Homo sapiens: one gene and its partners. The protein of the gene in region 5 purifies or fractionates together with the protein of the main gene of each other region. This does not show direct contact. Each region holds a gene or a part of one and is shown on either strand. Other genes may lie near its edges. The genes, in order: ORC4, ERGIC2, STEAP2, SCCPDH, PARM1 and GALNT16.

Region 1 (3,500 bases), on a different chromosome or scaffold from region 5:
CCTGACACATCTGCCGAGAATGGAGGGGGAAGAGGATTGCAAGAAAGCTATGGAGGCATGGCAGTCATAGCATGAGAAAAGAGACAACTTTGCTATGGTTTGGATATGGTTTGTCCCCACCAAATCTCATGTTGAAATTTAATTGCCAGTGCAACAGTGGGAAGTCACTGGAGTGGACCCTCATAAATAGATTTAATGCCTTCTTACTGGAGTGAGTTCTTGTTCTCATGGGGATAGATTAGTTCTTGAGACAGTGAGTTGTTATAAATTGAGGTTCCAACTCCTATCTGGTTCGTTTTTGCACATTTCGGTTCCCCATTTGACCTTCCACCATGTCATGCAGCATGAAAACCCTTGCAACAAAGCCAGTGCCATGCGCTTGAATTTTTCAGCCTGCAGAACTGTGAGATAAATAAACTTCTTTTCTTTAAAAATTACCAAGTCTCAGGTATTATGTTATAGCAACACAAAATGGGCCAAGGCACTCTTCAATACCAGTTTTATCTGAATTCAGTAAGTTAATACTACATGCGTGTAAGAAGGTAAACACAAAAAGGCCTGTACTGCTGTCCAAAGGTACACATGGTTCAATATGTACAGAGCCTTCACAAGGCAAAGTGATAGTGATATTGAGACTATAGTTAAAATCATTCTAAAATATCCCATGGAATGAAGAAGCCACTATCTACTGTCAGTGCTTGGTAGAATCTTTTCCATTTCTGGAGATGTGTACTTTGAAAGTTGGAATAGTATTACTTAGAGTTGATTTCAAGCCTTTTCAAAATATGGAAAAAAATCTTAAAATAAAAACTATTACCAAGTTTTCTCAAATATTGGTGAGATTTAACCGCCTCATTACTTGATAATGTAGAAATTATATTTATTAGCATAATCTGATTTCATACTTTTTTCTTCAGTAATTTCACTGGGAGGAGGGAGGTATTCATTAATGGGCTAAGGTAACTACTAAACTGTTTTCCTCAATTTGAGTTGAAAGCAGGATAAATACACCAGGCACTGCTGAAACAAAATTTTTAAAATGACCTAAATAAGTGAAAAAAACTAGCAGTGTCAGCAATTAAGCTTGAATTTTAAAATATTATAATCAATTTTTTTAATGAACAGAAAGACTTACCAATCTACATGTAAGACCAATAACTGCTATTGGGGTCTGTGCAGACTGAGAAATGTCAAAAAGATTATAGAGAAGTGTTTGGTTTTTATGATGAGCAAAAAGATCAAATTCATCTAATATGAAGATCACTGGGCAACTGCTAGTTCGGTCACCTAAGATAAAATAAGAGCATTACATTAATAAGAAATTATATCCACCTTTCCTAAATTTCCAAACCATTTACTATATTTCAGTTTTTAAAACTCAATTCTGTAAACATTCTGATAGCCTACTTTGGGTAGGGGATTTACTGATGCATATACGTTCATTCAACAGAAAAAAATTATTCAAAGGACAAACACAGCCCCGACTGCTCTCAAGAAGTTCAGTCTAGGCTGGGCGTGGTGGCTCATGCCTGTAATCCCAGCACTTTGGGAGGCTGAGGTGGGTGGATCACCTGAGGTCGGGAGTTCGAGACCAGCCTGACAAACATGGAGAAATCCCATCTCTACTAAAAATACAAAATTAGTCAGGTGTGGTGGCGCATGCCTGTAATCCCAGCTACTCGGGAGGCTGAGGCAGGAGAATTGCTTGAACCCAGGAGGCAGAGGTTGTGGTGAGCCAAGATCGTGCCACTGCACTCCAGCCTGGGCAACGAGAGTGAAACTCCATCTCAAAAAAAAAAAGTTCAGTCTAGGCCGGGCATGGTGACTCACGCTTGTAATCCCAGCACTTTGGGAGGCCGAGGTAGGTGGATCACCTAAGGTCAGGGGTTTGAGACCAGCCTGGCCAACATGGTAAAACCCCATCTCTGCTATTAAAAAAAAAAAAAAAAATTAGCTACTTGGGAGGCTGAGGCAGGAGAATCTCTTGAACTGCGGAGGCAGAGGTTGCAGTGAGCTGAGATCACACCATTGTATTCTAGCCTGGGCAACAAGAGTGAAACTCCATCTCCAAAAAATAAAAAGTGCAGTCTAGTTCCTAGACTCTAGTAGAGTTTGTTGTTGAAAAATGTCAAAAATCATTTAAATGACTAAAGACTATTATTTTTATAATTACGTAAATATAATTCTTATTTAATGATTATAAAATTGACAGAGTTTTCTATACCTACACAGAACCAAAACACTTTAAGATTAAAATATAAGGGGAGTCACTAATTAATGAACAAAACTAATGCTTTAAAAGAGAGTTGTTTATTTAGTAGAAATACAAGGTACATTTCTTGTAGAAATACTTTTTATAAACAAACTTGTAGATTATAAAGTTCAACTAAAGCCACTTAAACTCCCTTGAAGCACAACTTTTAGCATTTCAACTACAATGCTTTTCATGGGGAAAGTTCCACATCACCCTCTGGTTACATTTTTCTCACTTCAATAATGGAAACAACTTTAGTAAAAGAATCCCTTTTACCTTAGGCTTAACGCCTTTATATTTGTGTTAAAAAGTGAAACAAATATCTGATAAAAGAAAGACTTATTTCAACAAATAACAAATACAGTAGCCTAAATGACTTAATACTGGTACAAAACCAAAGGGATTACTCAAAAGTCTAGAAAGAGACTTATGTACTAATATAGAATTTTAGTATTTGATAAAATATTGCATTATACATCAGTGGGGAAAATTAGTCTATTCAAAGTCAGATCCCTACTTTACAGGTAAAATCAGAATAAATTCCAAACAAATTATAAATTACAAATATATATATATATTAAATAAAAAGATGGATCAATGAATGTTTTTATAATCTGAAGGAGAGAAAAAACTTTCTAGATAAACTTAACTATGTGGAAAACATAAAACTTTAGATCAGCAGAAAAGTCCAAACCAAACTTAAGGGAAGAGAAAAATAAAACACAAAAATTCCGATAAATAAGCATAACATAAACATTACCACAATAGGTCAAAGACCCAACAGGAAATACAGTCGTGTGTCCCTTAATGACAGAGATACGTTCTGAGAAATGTATTGTTAGGTGACTGCATCGTTGTACAAGCATCCTAACAGTGTACTTACCCAAGCCTAGATGGTATAGCCTACTAGACACCTAGGCTATATGGCATAGCCTATTGCTCCTAGGCTATGAACCTATGAGCATGTGATAGTGTAGACAACTGTAACACAATGCGAAGTATTTGTGTATCTAAACATATCTAAACACAGGAAAGGTACAGTAAAAATATGGTTTTATAATCTAATAGGACCACTGTCACATATGTGGTCTATCATTGAATTAAAGGTTGTTATGTGGCACATGACTGTACATAAACCAGGAAATTTCAAAGGTCAATAAAAATATGAAATGACAAGCATCACCACTATCAGAATTATGCAAATTAAGTAACCAGAATTATGCAAATTAAAGAACAAAATTATTCA
Region 2 (3,500 bases), on a different chromosome or scaffold from region 5:
TCAATGATGGCCTGGGGTTACTGTATAATCAAAAGGATCATTTTTATACAGTCATTAGGCATCTCTAAGTTTGACACAAGTTTTAAATACCAGAATATTACCAATTACTAATTAACTGTAAACAATTACCCATTCACATAATATAAAACATGTTAATTCTCCGGGTCTAGAGAATTCTCTAGAAAAAGTATAATTAGATACACCTATCCATAGATTCAACTAGAGAAGCAAGTAAATGTTTTTATTATCCTTTTGTTAGAGATGAAGCAACTCAAGTACAGGGATGTTAAGAAACAGGCCAAAGTCCAAGTTATTAAGTGGCAGAGTGAGAACTTGAACCCAGGCGGTTCCACTCAAGGGGAATATGGTCTTAAATTTAAGCAGAAAAAATTCTCCCAGATTTAAATAGAAGCTTGCACCCCTTTGTACATAAAAGAGTAAAAGCTTTGACCTTCCTCTCCACTTCTCTCTCACTCATGGAAGGAATGATTCATCTGCAAAAAGTAATCATGTGTGGCTAAGCCACTCAATTAGATAGTATAGGCATTCTCTCTCTTAAACAGCTCTGTCTTCAAGACATACATAACCACCTTCTACCATTAGGAAAGTGAGCCATCCCTGCCATTTGAGAAGTCAGCAGGGTAGGAGGAGTATGGAGTTAGGTTGTCCAGTTTGTGGCAGCACATATAGGTTGTTTTATTTCTACCGGCTTCATTAATAATAAAGCTGCCTGCAATGCTCTCAAAAAGATAATCGCTTAGCTCACTTATTTACTTCACTCAAGTTTTTTTCAAATACCACAGCCTCTTCCATGCCCTTTCTCATATCATAGGCAATCTCCTTTATTTTGTTCAGAGCCGTTTGCCCTAACACTTATTACCTAAAGATCTAATTCCCTATAGGAACGTGCGCTCTATGAAGGGCAGGGACTATGTCTACCTTGTTTATCCAAATCTGTACTGCATTAAAGATGTTAATTGTTAAGTAACTCCTGCAATACTTCTGGAGAACATCAGGAAAGGGATAGCTACCTGACATAGCAGATATGTAATGTTGATTTTTTTCTTTTTGGAAAAAGAGGCTGAAAAAAACATATATTACGAAGGAGAAAAGTATACAAACTGCTTTAAAGCTTTGAAAAACCTGATGATACTCACCTAACGGCATTTCAGAATATGACTCTAAATACCTCTTAGTTTCTCTGAATTTATAAAGAAGTACACTTAAAAACAGCTTTTTGAAAATTGACCTGTTTATATTTAGAAGAGCTTCTGTGCAAAAATTTGTAGTTCATTTTAGCATCTTGAAACAAAGCATCGACCAGTATGTTTCCAAATGAGCATCTCTCAGGTAACATGCAATGCATTTCAGAGGAGAATTAACATATGCTTAGATTACAGATTAGATTATACTGACTAAAGCTTATAAATCTCAAAATGTTTCCATCCACACATTTCTAAATTTAGTACACTCAGGTTTCCTGAAGTGAAACATTCCCACATGAACATAAAATATTCATGAATGTAAATCAGTATTCTAAATTCTAAACATCTTTAATATATGATTATAACACTGCTAAAAAGTAAAGAATATGAATAAATCTGAATAGGATATTAATAAATCTACTTAAATTAATAAAAAACTAAATCCTTAATTACAATTTTACAAAGGATAGAATTCCTACTAGCTGAACAAGCTTCAGAAGTCCTTAAAATGTCCAATAGCTGGAACATGGTATATAATATGACTATTTTAGAAAGAGGCAATCAAAAACCTGCAGAAAACATGAGAACAGACTACTTTCTAAAAAACTAAGAAAATGATCTTTCCATATTTGGATAGACTTGATACTTTAAATGGAGCAGAAGGTTAAATAGAACATTTTAAAAAGGTTATCTGTGCTATAATGTACTCCTTCTATGTTAATAACCAAACCATTCCAGAATAACTAGGTTTCTGGTGTTTGTAAAATTCTCCAGAGAGGTTTCTGAAATGATATATATGCATTTTAAAACTTTGAACCTATATTATACAAAGAAGAAAATTCTTCTCATAATGTTGAACCTTTTTTTCATTCTTATTCTTTGGTGAATACAAAAAAGTGCAGTTATGCCCTGTTAATGTATTAACCTTTCATCTATTTCTACTGTTTAAATTGAACTCCTTCTGCCTTTTAATTCCTTCATCTTTTAACTTGAATTTCTTTATTCTGTTCTATGGCTCATTTTTGAATATTCAAATTTCATCCACTACTAGGACAAATTCTCTTCACATACATCTCAATCACCAACCACTTAAAGATTATCTTTACACAGTAGTTAGGAAGACATTAAAAATGTATTAATATTCAGGTTATAAGCAAAATTTTCTACATGTAAAATCCAACAATAATTATTAAATACTTACGATCTATAGCAATTTTTTCAGTTCCATCTAAAGGATTAATAATTGCTGGAACAAGCTCTCCAAAAGACAAATGATCTATTCTATGAGAAAAATTGTAAGCTAAAAGGCAAAAAATAAAAACAACTTAGCAGAGAAATTATATTATTCAAAATTACTTGGTACAGACTGGTTTACATCCTTATCTATTCTCAAATGAAAATGTTTAAAATCTTCAAGGATAATAATACAGTATTTTAAGCCACAATACTTTGAGAAAAATAAATGTAAATATATGCGAATTAAATGTATAAAATAAATTCTGACAAAATGCTATATCTCAAATTTAATAATTATATACAATTTAACGTCTAGAAAATATTAATATATAATGAAAGCCAAAAATATACATCTTTCCTTTTCCAAATCATCATATAGTTAACAGGACGGTATTGTTAGAATTGGAATGATGGCCATGTGGCCATATAATAAAACTGATCAGATATATTTTTAATACACTATTGCTAAATGTGACCAAACTAATTTTCTGTGGAATCCATTACTTGTTTTGTCCTCTAAAGCAGACTTTAAGAACTTAAGTCTTAAGACAATCATGATACCAAACTAACCTGAATACTTTATACATGTCTATACATCCATATTTCAATTTGCAAATTGAAATAAACTGCAAATATATTATTTTCTTTATCCCTAAAAATTAGCAGAAATGTGTACAAAGTTATAGAAAGTACACTAGGCTTTCCTCCCTAACCTCAGCAACTCAGAGCCATGACCAAATACAAATGCAGATTAAAGTAAATCAATTTAAAAATTTATTTTTTCCTTTGGATGAATATGTTTTCAAAACAGCTCACTTTCAACTACACTATATCTGCACTTTTAAAAATAATATTTTTTCAAGTACATCTTTACTGAAAAAAAGTCAGAATCTGCTTACATTCATGGTTGACAAGTGCTGCCAAATGTGCATGACCACGAGGATGTGGAATTGCCCTGAAAGGAGAAAAAACAATTATTAAAGTAGTACCATTTATATGTATAATTAATTAAAATCAGAAACTGGATCTTCCCTAAGTTATATAATTTTTCTTAGTACA
Region 3 (3,500 bases), on a different chromosome or scaffold from region 5:
ATATGACTATAATGTGCTGTGGGGAAGACCTTCTTGTATTGTATCTGTTTGGAGATCTCTAAGTTACCTGTATCCGGGTGTCTACATCTCTCACTAGACTTGGGAAGTTTTCATTGTTGAATAACTTTGAATGCAAATGGATTAAACTTTCCACTGAAAAGATATGGACTAGTAATAGATAAAAAATCATAACCCAAGTATATGCTGGGTACAAGAAACCCATCTAACATATAAAAACACATATAAGACTGAAAGCAAAGGGATGGAGAAAGATAGTCCATGCAAATGGAAACCAAAAGTCACTATACTTATATCAAATAAAACAGTTTGAGTCAAAAACAGTATAAAGAGACAATGAAGGTCATTATATAATGATAATAGATAAATTCTAGCAAGAGGATATAACAATTCTAAACATATATACACCCAACAACAGACCACTCAGATATATTAATATAAATAAAGTGTTATCAGATCTAAAAGGAGAAACAGACGCCAATACAACAACATTTGGGGACTTCAACACCGCCTGCCAGCATCTGACAGATAATCTAGACAGAAAATTAACAAAGAAACATTGAATTTAAACTATACGTTAGACCAAATGGACCTAACAAACATTCACAGAACATTTTATACAACAGTTACAGAATACAAATTCTCATCAGCACATAGACATTCTCTAGGAATGACCATGTTAGAACACAAAATAAGATTCAACAAATTTTTTAAAAATCGAAGTCATATCAAGTACTTCCTCAGACCACAATGGAATAAAACTAGAAGTCAACAACATGAGGAACTTTTGAAACTGTAAAAATAAATGATTAAACAACATGCTCCTAAATGACTACGGGGGCAAAGAATAAATTAAGGAAGAAATCAAAAAATTTCCCTCAACAAATAAAAATAAAAACACAACACACTGAAACCCATGAGATACAGCAAAAGCAGTGCTAAGATGGAAGCTTATATCAACAAGCACCTACACCAAAAAATCATTACGATTTCAAATAAACAACTTAATGATGTACCTCAAGGAACTAGAAAAGCAAAAACAAGCCAAACCCCAAATTGGTAAAAGGAAAGTAATAATAAAGATCAGAGCAGAACTAGACAAATTGGGACTTAAAAAACAATACAAAGGATGGATGAAACAAAAAGTTTTGTTTTTTGAAAAGATAAAATTGATAAAGCACTTGCTAGACTAACCAAGAAAAAAGAGGAAATACTCCAATAAAAAATCAGAAATGGAAAAGGAAACATTACAATTGATACCACAGAAATACATAAGATCATGAGAAGCTATTATGAACAACTATACACCAACAAACTGGAAAACCTAGAGGAAATGGATAAACTGCTACACATATACAAGCTACCAAGATTGAAATGGGAAGAAATGGAAAACCTGGACAGACCAGTAACAAAAAAAGTTGAGGCAGTAATTAAAAAACTCCCAACAAAGAAAAGTCCAGGGCCAGATGGCTTCACTGCCGAATTCTACCAAACTTTCAAAACAGACCTAACACCAATTCTCTTCAAACTCTTCCAAAACATTAAACAGGAGGGAATTCTGCCTAACTCATTCTATGAGGTCAGCATTATCTTCACACCAAAAGCAAACAAGGCTCAACAAAAAAGAAAACTACATACTATTATTCCTGATGAGCACAGATACAAAAACTCTCAACAAAATACTAGCAAACCAAGGGCCAGACATGATGGCTTATGCCTGTAATCCCAGCACTTTGGGAGGCCAATGCAGGAGGATGGATTGAAGCCAGGAGTTTAAGCCCAGCCTGGGCAACATAATGAGACCCTCGTCTCTACAAAAAATTTAAACAATAGCTAGGTGTGGTGGTACACACCTGAAGTCCTAGTACTCGGGAGCTGAGGCAGAAGAATCACCTGAGCCCAGAAGTTGAAGGCTGCAGTGATTTATGATTGCATAACCGCACTCCCTCCTGGGCAACAGAGCAAGACCCTGTCTCCTAAAAATTGTGTGTGTGCGCGCGTGTGTGTCTGTAGAAGCAAACCAAATCTAACAACTCATAAAAAAAACACACACACATCATGATCAAAGGGGATTTATTCCAGGAATGCATCCCAGGGATACAAGGATGGTTCAACATATGCAAATCAACAACTGTGATACATCACCTGAAGAGAATGAAGGACAATAACCATATGATCATCTCAATAGATGCAGAAAAAACATTTGAGAAAATTTAGCATCCCCTCATGATAAAACTTGCAACAAACTAGGGATAGAAAAAATATGCTTCACATAATAAGGGCTTATATGATCTATATAATAATAATATAGCTATCATTATTTTGAAATGGGGAAAAGCTCAAAGCCTTTCCTCTATGAACAGAAACAAGACAAGGATGCCACTTTCACCACTTCTATTCAACATCATATTGGAAGTCCTAGCCAGAGCAACCAGGAAAGAGAAAGAATAAAAGGTACCCAAACTGGAAAAGAGGAAGGTCAAATTATCCCTCTTTGCTGATGATATGATCTTAGATCTAGATAAACCTAAAGATTTCACACAAAAACTCTTAGATCTGATAAATAAATTCAATAAAGTTGCAGGATACAAAATCGACATACAAAAATCAGTACCATTTCTATACACCAACAATGAACTTGCTGAAAAAGACACCAAGAAGGCAATCCCATTTACAATAGCTATAAAAAAAACAAAAACAAACAAAAAACAACTAGGAATATATTTAACCAAGGAGGTGAAAGTTTGCTACAAGGAAAACTACAAAGCACTGTAGAAAAAAATTAAAGATGACATAAACGAATGGAAAAACATTCCATGCTTATGGATTGGAAGAATTAATATTAAAATGACCATACTGCCCAAAGCAATACACAGATTCAATGCAATCCCTATCAAAATACCAATGTGATTTTTCATAGAATTAGAAAAGACAATCCTAAAATTCATATAGAACCAAAAAATATCCTGAATAGCTACAGCAATCCTAAGCAAAAAGAACAAAGCTGAAGGCATCACACTACCTGACTTCAAAATATATTACAAGGCAATAGTAACCGAAAAAACATGGTACCGGTATAAAAACAAATGCACAGATCAATGAATGCAACAGATTAGATAATCCACAAAAAAAATCCACACATTTACAGCCAACTGATTGTCAACAAAGGCACCAAGAACATACACTGAGGAAAGGATATCCTCTTCAAATATATGGTACTTAGACAATTGGATATCTGTATGCAGAAGAATAAAACTGGACCCCTGTCCCTCACCATATACAAAAATCAACGCAAGGTCAACTAAAGACTTAAACATAAGACCCAAAACCCCTCATTTCAAGAAGAAAACATTGGGGAAATATTTGAAGACATTGGTCTAGGCAAAGATTTTATGGCTAGGACCTCAAAAGCACAGCAACAACAACAAAAAAATAGACAAATGGGACTATATTAAACTAAAAGACTTCCGTGCAGCAAAGGA
Region 4 (3,114 bases), on a different chromosome or scaffold from region 5:
TACGGTTTCTTTCTAATCTGTCTTCCCACTGCTGTCCAAGAGATCTTTCTAAGACACAAAATCTGACCTTGTCATTGCCTTCTTTATAAAATGTTCCTGGCCCACTGCTTTGGCAGTGATTCTTAACTGAGATTTCATATATCAGAATCATGGCCGGGCGCAGTGGCTCACACCTGTAATCCCAGCACTTTGGGAGGCTGAGGGAGGTGGATCACTTAAGGTCAGGAGTTCAAGACCAGCCTGGCCAACAGGTGAAACTTCATCTCTACTAAAAATACAGAAATTAGCTGGACATGGTGGTGCACGCCTGTAGTCCCAGCTACTCAGGAGGCTGAGGCAGGAGAATTGCTTGAACTCAGGAGGTGGAGCTTGCAGTGAGCTGAGATCACACCACTGCACTCCAGCCTGGGCAACACAGCGAGATTCCTTCTCCAAAAAAAAAAAAAAAAAAAAAGAATCACCTAGGAAGCTTTTTTCACTGACACATGCCCTCATCTTGCTTCTGGACGTTCTGATTCAGTAGGTCTGGAGTGGGGCCTGAAAGCATAGAGCAGTGGTTCCCAACTTTGGAAGAGAACCCAAAACAGATGACCAGAGACTCTGGTTCGGTTGGTCTGGAATGCAGCCTGGGCACTGGGGCTCTCTAAATCTGCCCAGTGATGCTAATGTGCTGCCAGGGTTGAGAATCACCACTGCGGAGGAAGGAAGAAGGTTCCAGATTTGAGTGGTTTTGGTACCCACCCCTGGAGCACAAATGGCCGAAAGTCCATCTTCAGAGATGTGAGGCCATCCTAGACCCTTCATGATCTAGTTCTGGATAGCACATAGGATTCATTTTTCATCCAACTTTGATTAATTGATAGTAGCCACCCAGAGACTATGCTGGGTCGGACAATGTGTGTAGCCTGAGAGAGGATTAGAACCCATTAGTGTGGGCGCCATAGCAGGAGATGGGACAGGTGTGGCATGTGTGTCTGACCTTGTCTGTACCTCTTGAATTGTATGTTCTGGAAAGGCTATGCTACTGCATCCCTTCTTCCCTTTAAATAATGGGTTCTCCTTTCTGGAATCCATCTACTTTTGGGGTTTTAAAACAACCATTAAAATGTGTTTGTGTGTGTGTATATATACAGTTCAGAACCATTGCCCTCTGCCCTGGTAGATTAATAACACCCTCCTCTGAGTTATGCCTGTATGTTTTAGTTCATGTCACATTGTTATTTAATCTGTTTATCTCTCTCTCCCCCCCTTTCCTCCTACTAAACTGTAAGCTCCAGCAAAGGCAGTAATTATGTCTCAGGGCCTCAATGGTATCTGACCCTTAGTTGATACTTCATAAAAATGTGTTGATCATGATTGAATTCTTTATCACCTCATTCCTAAATTTAGTGATTGTGAAAGATGCTAGGATAAGTCCTCAAGAATTTAGTTTTTTGAGTCGAATTTTTACATCTTTAAGTGGAACAATTATATACCTATACTCCAGGCCCATATTTCCATTACTTGCTGGCTATTTTTGTCTTGTCGCCTCAAATAGGTATCTAAAACCAGATTTCTATATTCTGCCCCCCGATAAAAACTATCTCCAGATCATCTTTATTTCCTCCCTATTTCTTACCACTCCCCTTCCCCCCAACATCACGCCAGTCTTCAAAACTGACAGCTTCAAAGAATTAGTTTTCGCTCCCTGCTTAAATGATGACGGGATATTCTGGCAGATAAAATAATGTTTTCATCTATTGACAATGTCTCACTTGAAATAGAATAGTCGGTTTTACTATGTTCCAGGAGGAAATGACGTATTTATGAAATGCGCCCTTTGCCTTCTCCTTCACAGATTGATGCTGCCTCATTCACGCTGACATTCTTTGGTCAAGGATACAGCCAAGGCACTGGTACAGATAAGAACAAACCAAATATCAAAATTTGTACTCAGGTGAAAGGACCAGGTATTTCACATATCACTTAAGAATGCTTGGGAATTTTATACTCTTAAGCTATAAAGTACAATGCCATTACAATATATTCTTTTTAAAGCTTAATTGTTTTAGAAATACATTTGTACAAATTAAGTAACTTAAAATTATTCTGTCAAAGGAAGATTGAAATTATTGATATAATCCAATTTTATTAGTGCATCCCTCCCTCTGGCTGTTTTTGGAGTATGATTCAGTAATTCAGAATGGCAAATTTTAATTAGTATTAATAGGAAAAGGGATTGGTTGATATTCACCTGTTTGAATCTCATATGCAAGTAGTGTAATTATAATGTCAGTCAAATCTGTGCTCTAGGATTTCTTTAGAGTCTCTGAACACCCTGACATTGTTTGTAAAATATGTATGCACACGTGCACTTTTCAAGGGAAGGGAATGGCTTCTGATAGGTTGTTAAAAGAATGTTGCCCAAAACGTTCAAGAACTTTTGCTGTACATTTTACAGAACTATGCAGAGACAGACAGGTCCACTTGTGAACTGTGGTATAATTACTGTCAGAGACAGACAGGTCCACTTGTGAACTGTGGTATAATTACTGTCAGAGACAGACAGGTCCACTTGTGAACTGTAGTATAATTACTGTCAGAGACAGACAGGTCCACTTGTGAACTGTGGTATAATTACTGTCAGAGACAGACAGGTCCACTTGTGAACTGTGGTATAATTACTGTCAGAGACAGACAGGTCCACTTGTGAACTGTGGTATAATTACTGTCAGAGACAGACAGGTCCACTTGTGAACTGTGGTATAATTACTGTCAGAGACAGACAGGTCCACTTGTGAACTGTGGTATAATTACTGTCAGAGACAGACAGGTCCACTTGTGAACTGTAGTATAATTACTGTCAGCCCTTTTAGGTCACAGGCTATAATTTTTTATTGAGACGGGGTCTCACTATGTTGCCTAGGCTGGGCTCAAGCAGTCCTCCTGCCTCAGCCTTCTAAAGGGTTGGGATTACAGGCATGAATTGCCATGCCTGGCCCACGGGGGATTTTAATCAAGCCAGATGATAGTATGTTTCCATCTTGCCCTTTTCTGAAATTCCCACCTGACTTTTTAAGGTAAGTTGACTGTATTTTCATTATTTGACAGGATTATAAATGCTAATGTTCCGTT
Region 5 (3,500 bases):
ACCATTCCACCCACAGGCAGAAATACAGAGGCTGGCACTACTCACCTCTCTTACCTCCCTGCCTGCCTATCCCATCCAATCCTGCCCACCCCAGAATGGTTCCCGGGGCCTGACACTTGTCTCCGCCATGGAGTGGTGAAACCTCAGGGCCCCTGCCTATTGGGTCTCTACACACCACACTGTCCTGGCTTAAGGTGAGCCCATGGAGCTCATTCGGGAGAGGCTTGTAGGGTGGATTTGGGGTAAGAGGGAGGAGACGAGATGTGCTTCCCCTGGCATGGGGTGGAATGGAAAGAAGAATGGGCATGAAATCCAAGCAGACAAGGCCAGAAGACAAAGAGACTTCCAATAATGGTAAAATTAAGATCTACCTAGGTTGCAGTGTCTAAGAACTAAGGTTTTCTTTTCTCACTTTCTCTCCATCTCACAAACTACACCCCACTCCCACTACCACCCCACTAGAAGCAAATTGCAGTTACCATGTACCCTGGGTTATTTAACACACTGAAATGAACAGCATTTGGCAGGATTCTGAGCAGTTATTTTGCACCACAGCACACACTAGAAACCAATGACCTGAACGATCTAAGGTTGCTGTTCTAGAACTGTTGTCTGCTTCTAACTAGCCCTCTTCCCAATTAATTTGAATTATTGAGCTTCATTCTTCCTTCACCAGTATGTACAAGAGGACCCAAGCCATCACACAGCCTAAGGCAGGCCCTGATTCCTGGGCAGCTAACAGAAAGCAGACAGAGGATGTACCAGAGCTGTAGGTTTTATTTAAAAGCAGTTGAGGATTTAGTACTAGAGCCCAGGGTGGCAGGAGAGCCTAGTGGGCAACACATGGACTCTCGAACCTGTGCTTGTATCCCAGTTCTTCTACTTAGCAGTTCTGTGGCTTTGGGTCCTTAGCATCTCTGTGACTCAGTTTCCCCAACTGTAAAATGGAGATAACAAGAATACCTACTTTCTCATGAGGATTAAATGAACTGAAATAAGTGAAGCTCATAGAACAGTCCCTGGCACACAGTAAGTAACAGGAAAGTGTTAGTTGCTATTATTTTTGTTGTCGTTGATTTCTCCTGCTATTACTGTTGTTCTTTGGAGGAAGGAGACATGATCTGATGCTCTTGCTGTGAGAATGAAGAGCCTAGCATAATAAATAGAGATTCGGCACACACAGAGTTCTAACTGTCAAGCCCTCGCCAGTCGCCCACTTCCCTCCTCCAGCACATCCACAGATACATGCTTTTAAAGAGAAAGAATTCCTCTGAGACAAAATGTTCCTTTCCTCTTGGTGACCTTGACTGAAGGAGCTGCGGCACACCCTGAAGTGGCCACCTGCTCCTCTTCTCCAATTCTTACCTAATCTCTGGACCAGGAAGTGGAAAGAAAAGCGCAAGAATATTGAAAAACAGTCAAGAGGTTTGTTAAAGACTCTTCTCAAAATAGATCAGAGGCATGCACACATACTCAGGAACTTGGTCAAGTATTTACACGCACCTTCTAAATAAGCTGACTGGTGAATTTTCAAGGAGAATGTAGCTCAGGAGTCATCTATGGATAGCAGTGAGACACTCACCTCTTTTTCACCTCTGGAAACTTTCCACCATCACCTCCTCCACCCCCAGCTCTCTCAGAGTAACAACAACTTCTTTAAAGAGCCCAGCAAAGTTATTTCTTCAGAGGTTGTTTGGGTTCATCCCATCATGTCCTAATATTTACATTTTGGATACAATTGGTGAATATTAATATTTTTTCCAAAGAGCTCAAATAAAATGTTTATTTCATGTTTAAAGTGAAATAAAAAGAAAATCCCTCAATGAGAAGAGTCCCTAGAGGAACATTTGAGGTTTGAGAATATTGCTAAGCCCAGGAATATAGAAGGACCCTTTTGGTCAAGTGAGAGGCAGGAGGCTTGGACATGAACAGAACCCCTTCTGAGTGTGTGATCAAGAAAAGGGGCCCATCTGTGTGGCGTGCGGGCCCATGGGGATGTGTGAGTGTGGGGAGAGAGACTCTTAAATGATGCCACAGTTGATTCCTGGACTGCCTCAGGGTATAGAACAGAGCTAAAGCAGGGAAAGGAATACCCCCAAAGGCAGCCTCCTTCCTCAGGGTTGTAGAGCAGTGGAGTAGTGGCCGACAAGGCTGACCAGGAGTTTACTCTGGCTGCTTCCAGGATGTTATCTGACTCTATTTAGACAATTATTCCTTGGTATGGTTTGGCTGTGTGTCCCCACCCAAATCTTACCTTGAATTGTAATAATCCCCATGTGTCATGGGAGGGACCCAGTGGGAGGTAATGGAATCATGGGGGTGAGTTTTACCCATGCTGTTCTCGTGATAGTGAAGATCTGATGGTTTTATAAAAAGAAGTTACCCTGCCCATGCTCTCTTGCCTGCCACCATGTAAGACATGCCTTTCACCTTCCACCATGATTGTGAGGCCTCCCCAGCCATGTGGAACTGTGAGTCCATTAAACCTTTTTTTATATATAAATTACCATCTTGAGTATGCCTTTGTTAGCAGCATGAGAATGGACTAATTCATTCCTAAAAGAACTCTCCTCCAACTAACCACCTTGGTCACTGATGGGGACTTTCAAGTGCACAGTGAGAAGGGCAGGGGGCTGGGGAGGTGGGATCATAGATGTAATCATAGGAGTAGGTACTCAGGTAAGAACTGGAGCAGGTGATTCCAAGGTGAATAGGTGGTGAGTCAGCTGTGTGGAAACTTTTTTAGGACAATGATTAGGCTAAAAAAAAAAAAAATTCTGGTAATCTTTTTTAAGCTAAAAGTATATTTGTTTATTCAACATTAAATACATGAGTTAAGTACCCACTGTGGGCCAAAGATGGTGCCTTAAGCTAACAGTGCACAAAGAAATGGGAAGAGATGCAAGATGGCCATGAATAGAAATGACCTAGGGAAGCACATAAACATAATACAGAATGCTTGAAAGAAATTGATGCTGAGATCTGAGAACACAGAGCAACACTGTAATTTTACCCAGGGGTGTCAGGGAAAACGGCTCAGAAGAGTTGCTATTTAGCTAGATAGTGAAGAAGAATAGGAGCTGGCCAGGCTAAGAAAAGTTAATGATTAAAAATGCAAAACCAGGACTAAATAGTACTGGGTCCAAATGATAGTTCAATCATTTACCACATGTAAAACCTTAATCTCTCTGAGCCTTAACTTCCTCATCTATAAAATGGGAATAATTCTGCCCACCTTGTAAAGAGAATTAAATAAGATGATAGCTGTACAGTTTTGTGCATAGTCTCAGCCCAAAGTAATCATCTGCAAATGGTAGCTATGGTTATTCTTTAGCCCATTTATTCTGGTCCTGGGCCATTAAAAAAAAGTGGCAAAATGCAACCCTGAGGAATTCCAGACTTCAGGGAGGCCCAAAATTCAAAGAGGTTTTGGTTCACAGGCCTTCACCAGCCCTCTGGATAGGCAGAACATGTTGGTAGAGTGAAACGTGCTAGCACAG
Region 6 (3,500 bases), on a different chromosome or scaffold from region 5:
TGGTCTCAGCCATCAGGAATGCAGCAGGACCATGTTGGCTTGGTGTGCCACGGCACCAAGAGAGAGTGGGGAAGTGCACAGGATGACACCAAGATGGGCCCTTGGTGGGACCCAGGGTGCAAGGACTCACCTTCCCGCCGATCATTGCGCAGGCACTTGACCTTGGGGATCCTGGTCAGGAGTAGACAGTCTTCCGCTGAGGATGCAAAGAGGAAGGCAAGCTCATTTAGACATGGGCATCAGGCCACTAGTGGTTTGGCTGCCATGAAAATTGCCCCATACTAAGCCCAGGAAAGGGTTGGGGATGGGGATTGGGAAGAGGTATGGTCATCACTACTGGCCGAAGGGTTGCCCTGCCCCACTCTCAGGCCAGACTGAGGAGTGCCTGTACCTATGGCAGTACTCCACTCCACCTCAGGGAGCACTAGAAAGCACGCTTGGGGGTGGCTACCAGCCCAGCTATCATCTGCATTTGGCAGTTGTAATAATGAAGGATGCTGTTGATTTTCTTTACTTTTTAAAAACAATATCATCTCACTAGAGTCCCATCCAAAGCAACACCCACCCTTCTTTCCCCTCCTTTGACACCAGGGAACAGGACCAGGGAGGGGTCCTAGAAAAGACAGGATCCCTGCTGGGGGCAGAAAGGTGTCTGCGATGGTCAGGACAACCTCAGGGTGCTTGCCTTGGTGTTCTGGGGAAACAGGGACGAGGGCGGAATGGAGGGCTGCAAAAAGGAAGGTGACTACTCACGATCTGAGCTGAAGTCATCCACTAAAATGATCTCCTGGATCAAGTTGGCAGGAGTTCGGTTCAGGACACTACAGTAGCAGTGGAAACAGAGAAAGAGCCTGGATTTAGGAACCACCTCCCATTTTTACCACTCCCGGGGCCGTGGGACTCCCCAGCCGCCCAGCTCCAGGGCCAGCATGCTGGGCGCTCCTACCTGAATCCTATTCTTGTCTAAGTTCATTGAGGAAATGGGGAGATGGGAGTTCAACTTGACCACAAGCCCAGGCTTAGCAGGAAGAATCCACCTCCAATCCACCTCTCTCTGACACTGACAGACACTGCTGGGCTTCCATCACCCTCCTGAGGCCTCCTGTCTAGCCCGGCCTCCCTCAGCTCCTGACACCTGCATTTCTGCCCTTGTCCTGGACATCTGACCTGGTGTTTGACTGTCGCATTCCTCTAACAGTTTGACTTCTGGGGTCTTCCTGGCCCTGATTCACCAGTCTCAGCCTCTCAGAAGTACAGGACTCAGCCTCCAGCACCTGCTGGGCTTCAAGCTGTCTGGCCACAGCGCCCAATCCCAATGTCCTCCCCTGCCAGCACCACTGAGATGAGAGTCCCATGGCTGGACTTACCTCTTCACTGTGCGCAGCAGGGTGGAACGGGCCTCATTGTGGAAGGTGATGATGACGCTGGTGGCTGGCAGGTCCGAGGAGTAGGACACAGATGGGCAGCTGAGAAGGGAGCACAGAGGTCAGAGCCAGCCATGAGGGCATCCTCAGGGCAGGTCAATGTTTTTCTTTGTCCAGTCTTGTGCCTGAGAATACTTCTGCCAGGCAGAGAAGGCACACCAACAGCCAGGCCAGAGGCCCCGCGCCTCCACCCCCATGCTGCATCCCACACTGGCCCAGAACCCCGATGCCACCCATCCTGGGGTCCTGGGAGGGAAGCAGCAGGTTGGGAGACCTTCCAAGGCCTGGGGGCTCTTTACCAGAGATCTCAGAGCCCCCAGAGGGGGCTCCCTAGTATATACAGATACTGCACCAGGCCCCAGGATACAGCCCTGACCACACTCTGTCGTATGGTGGGGGGTATGTGCGAGAGGGAAAACTACCTCTGTTTGTCCTGATACCCTAGAGTTTCTTCCTTCTCTCTTCCCAGCTCAGGACATTTGGTAGAATCTGCAGAGGAATCACCCCTACCCTGGCTGCCAGGGAATTCCTCCCTGTCACTGCCCAACACTGACAGCCCTGCTGCAGACAACAAGCTGGGGAGCAGTCTCACTCCTCCCAGGGTACTGGGTCCCCTGGAGGAAACAAGCCTCTGTTAAGACACCAAAGGCCTATCCCGTCACTTCCTCCCTCCCCAGCCATCCATAGACACCACATTTTCTGGCCTACTGGCTCCCTCTCCTCTAGAAAGGGAGTGAAAACAATTCATTCCTGCCAGACTTCATCCCTGTTGTTTCTGCGTATGCATTTATTTGAGCTCCTGGGGTGCTGGAAGGTGGCCTCCGTTGCTGGTTTTCATAGCAATCTTCTTTATTACAATTGCTCTCTGACTATTCCACCAGTGCCCGTTTTTTCATTGTGGCATTCATTCTACTGACAGCAGCTTACAGCCCGAATTCCCAGGCCTGTTTCCTGCCCTGCAGAGCAGACCAGGTCAGACAGGCAGGAGTCCCACTAGCCTGGGACCCCCCTGGGGGAAATCTTGAGAGGCTGTGCAATAATTCTCCTTGAGAGGGGGTGTAGGGTAGTGGTGGCGGAGGGAAATTTGCCTTCTACCCCTTGAGAAACCATGCTGTTCAAGGGCCTATGAATTGTGGGGGAGGGAGTGAGCTTGGCCGGCTGAGCTGGGGTGTGCTGGGAGCAGCAAATACCTCCTAAGTGTGCACCCTCCCAGTGCTGACCTCCAGGGCCCCAGTCCTCTGTCCTGATCCCCCAACCATCCGGTGCCCAGAAAGGAGGGAATCGGGACAGTGACGTCTCCCTGAAGGGGGCAAACCCACCCACACCCCATCTGAAGGGTGAACTTGACCTCCCCACCGGCTCCCTCCAGCCCTTTCGGCATGCATGCCTCTGGGATTGATGTTACTTAGCATGGGGGTTTATCTGGCTCCCAGGAGCCAGGAGCCTCTAAAGGGGTTTGTCCCAGCCCTGAGTTTTGAGTTTGGAGCTGATGGGGTTTTCTCTGTGATCCTCCTCGGCCTGTCTTATGTGGTTTATGTCCCTTTGCTCCCCTGGAGCGGGCTCCCTAGATTGAGGCTGGACCAGAAATGAACCTGACAATTTGGAGTCCAGCGGACACTACAGCCTGCAGGGCTGCAAGGAAGAGCAGCTTCTACCAGCAAACTGGCCCCACCATGGCAGGAGGCCTGCCCACTAAAGCCAGCACGTCCTTTGCTTCCCTACACGTGTGCATGCGTGCGCGCGTGCGCGCGCACACACACACACACACACACACACACACACACACACACACACACACACACACACACCCCGTGAGCCACCTCAGCTTTCTTTTTTCTTTTTTGAGACGGAGCCTTACTCTGGCACCCAGGCTGGAGTACGGTACTGCGATCTTGGCTCACTGCAACCTCTGCCTCCCAGGTTCAAGAGATTCTCCTGCCTTAGCCTCCCGAGTAGCTGAGATTACAGGTGCCCACCACCACACCCAGCTAATTTTTGTATTTTAGTAGAGACAGGGTTTCACCATGATAGGCAGGCTGGTCTTGAACTCCTGACCTCAAATGATCCACCCACCTC

What was found.
Region 1: the proteins of PARM1 (region 5) and ORC4 purify together in Homo sapiens (affinity purification with mass spectrometry; one large-scale study listed by BioGRID and IntAct). This does not show direct contact.
Region 2: the proteins of PARM1 (region 5) and ERGIC2 purify together in Homo sapiens (affinity purification with mass spectrometry; one large-scale study listed by BioGRID and IntAct). This does not show direct contact.
Region 3: the proteins of PARM1 (region 5) and STEAP2 purify together in Homo sapiens (affinity purification with mass spectrometry; one large-scale study listed by BioGRID and IntAct). This does not show direct contact.
Region 4: the proteins of PARM1 (region 5) and SCCPDH purify together in Homo sapiens (affinity purification with mass spectrometry; one large-scale study listed by BioGRID and IntAct). This does not show direct contact.
Region 6: the proteins of PARM1 (region 5) and GALNT16 purify together in Homo sapiens (affinity purification with mass spectrometry; one large-scale study listed by BioGRID and IntAct). This does not show direct contact.

Annotation. Positions count from the first base shown.
Region 1 is NC_000002.12:147,951,238-147,954,737, forward strand, and holds part of ORC4 (origin recognition complex subunit 4), read right to left. Parts: intron 1,288-3,500; coding exon 1,136-1,287; intron 1-1,135. UniProt on the Homo sapiens protein: Component of the origin recognition complex (ORC) that binds origins of replication. DNA-binding is ATP-dependent. The specific DNA sequences that define origins of replication have not been identified yet.
Region 2 is NC_000012.12:29,346,673-29,350,172, forward strand, and holds part of ERGIC2 (endoplasmic reticulum-Golgi intermediate compartment protein 2), read right to left. Parts: intron 3,397-3,500; coding exon 3,341-3,396; intron 2,506-3,340; coding exon 2,407-2,505; intron 1-2,406. UniProt on the Homo sapiens protein: Possible role in transport between endoplasmic reticulum and Golgi.
Region 3 is NC_000007.14:90,218,240-90,221,739, reverse strand, and holds part of STEAP2 (metalloreductase STEAP2), read right to left. Parts: intron 1-3,500. UniProt on the Homo sapiens protein: Integral membrane protein that functions as a NADPH-dependent ferric-chelate reductase, using NADPH from one side of the membrane to reduce a Fe(3+) chelate that is bound on the other side of the membrane.
Region 4 is NC_000001.11:246,762,409-246,765,522, forward strand, and holds part of SCCPDH (saccharopine dehydrogenase-like oxidoreductase), read left to right. Parts: intron 1-1,837; coding exon 1,838-1,949; intron 1,950-3,114.
Region 5 is NC_000004.12:75,027,116-75,030,615, forward strand, and holds part of PARM1 (prostate androgen-regulated mucin-like protein 1 precursor), read left to right. Parts: intron 1-3,500.
Region 6 is NC_000014.9:69,322,658-69,326,157, reverse strand, and holds part of GALNT16 (polypeptide N-acetylgalactosaminyltransferase 16), read right to left. Parts: intron 1,467-3,500; coding exon 1,368-1,466; intron 822-1,367; coding exon 754-821; intron 197-753; coding exon 131-196; intron 1-130. UniProt on the Homo sapiens protein: Catalyzes the initial reaction in O-linked oligosaccharide biosynthesis, the transfer of an N-acetyl-D-galactosamine residue to a serine or threonine residue on the protein receptor.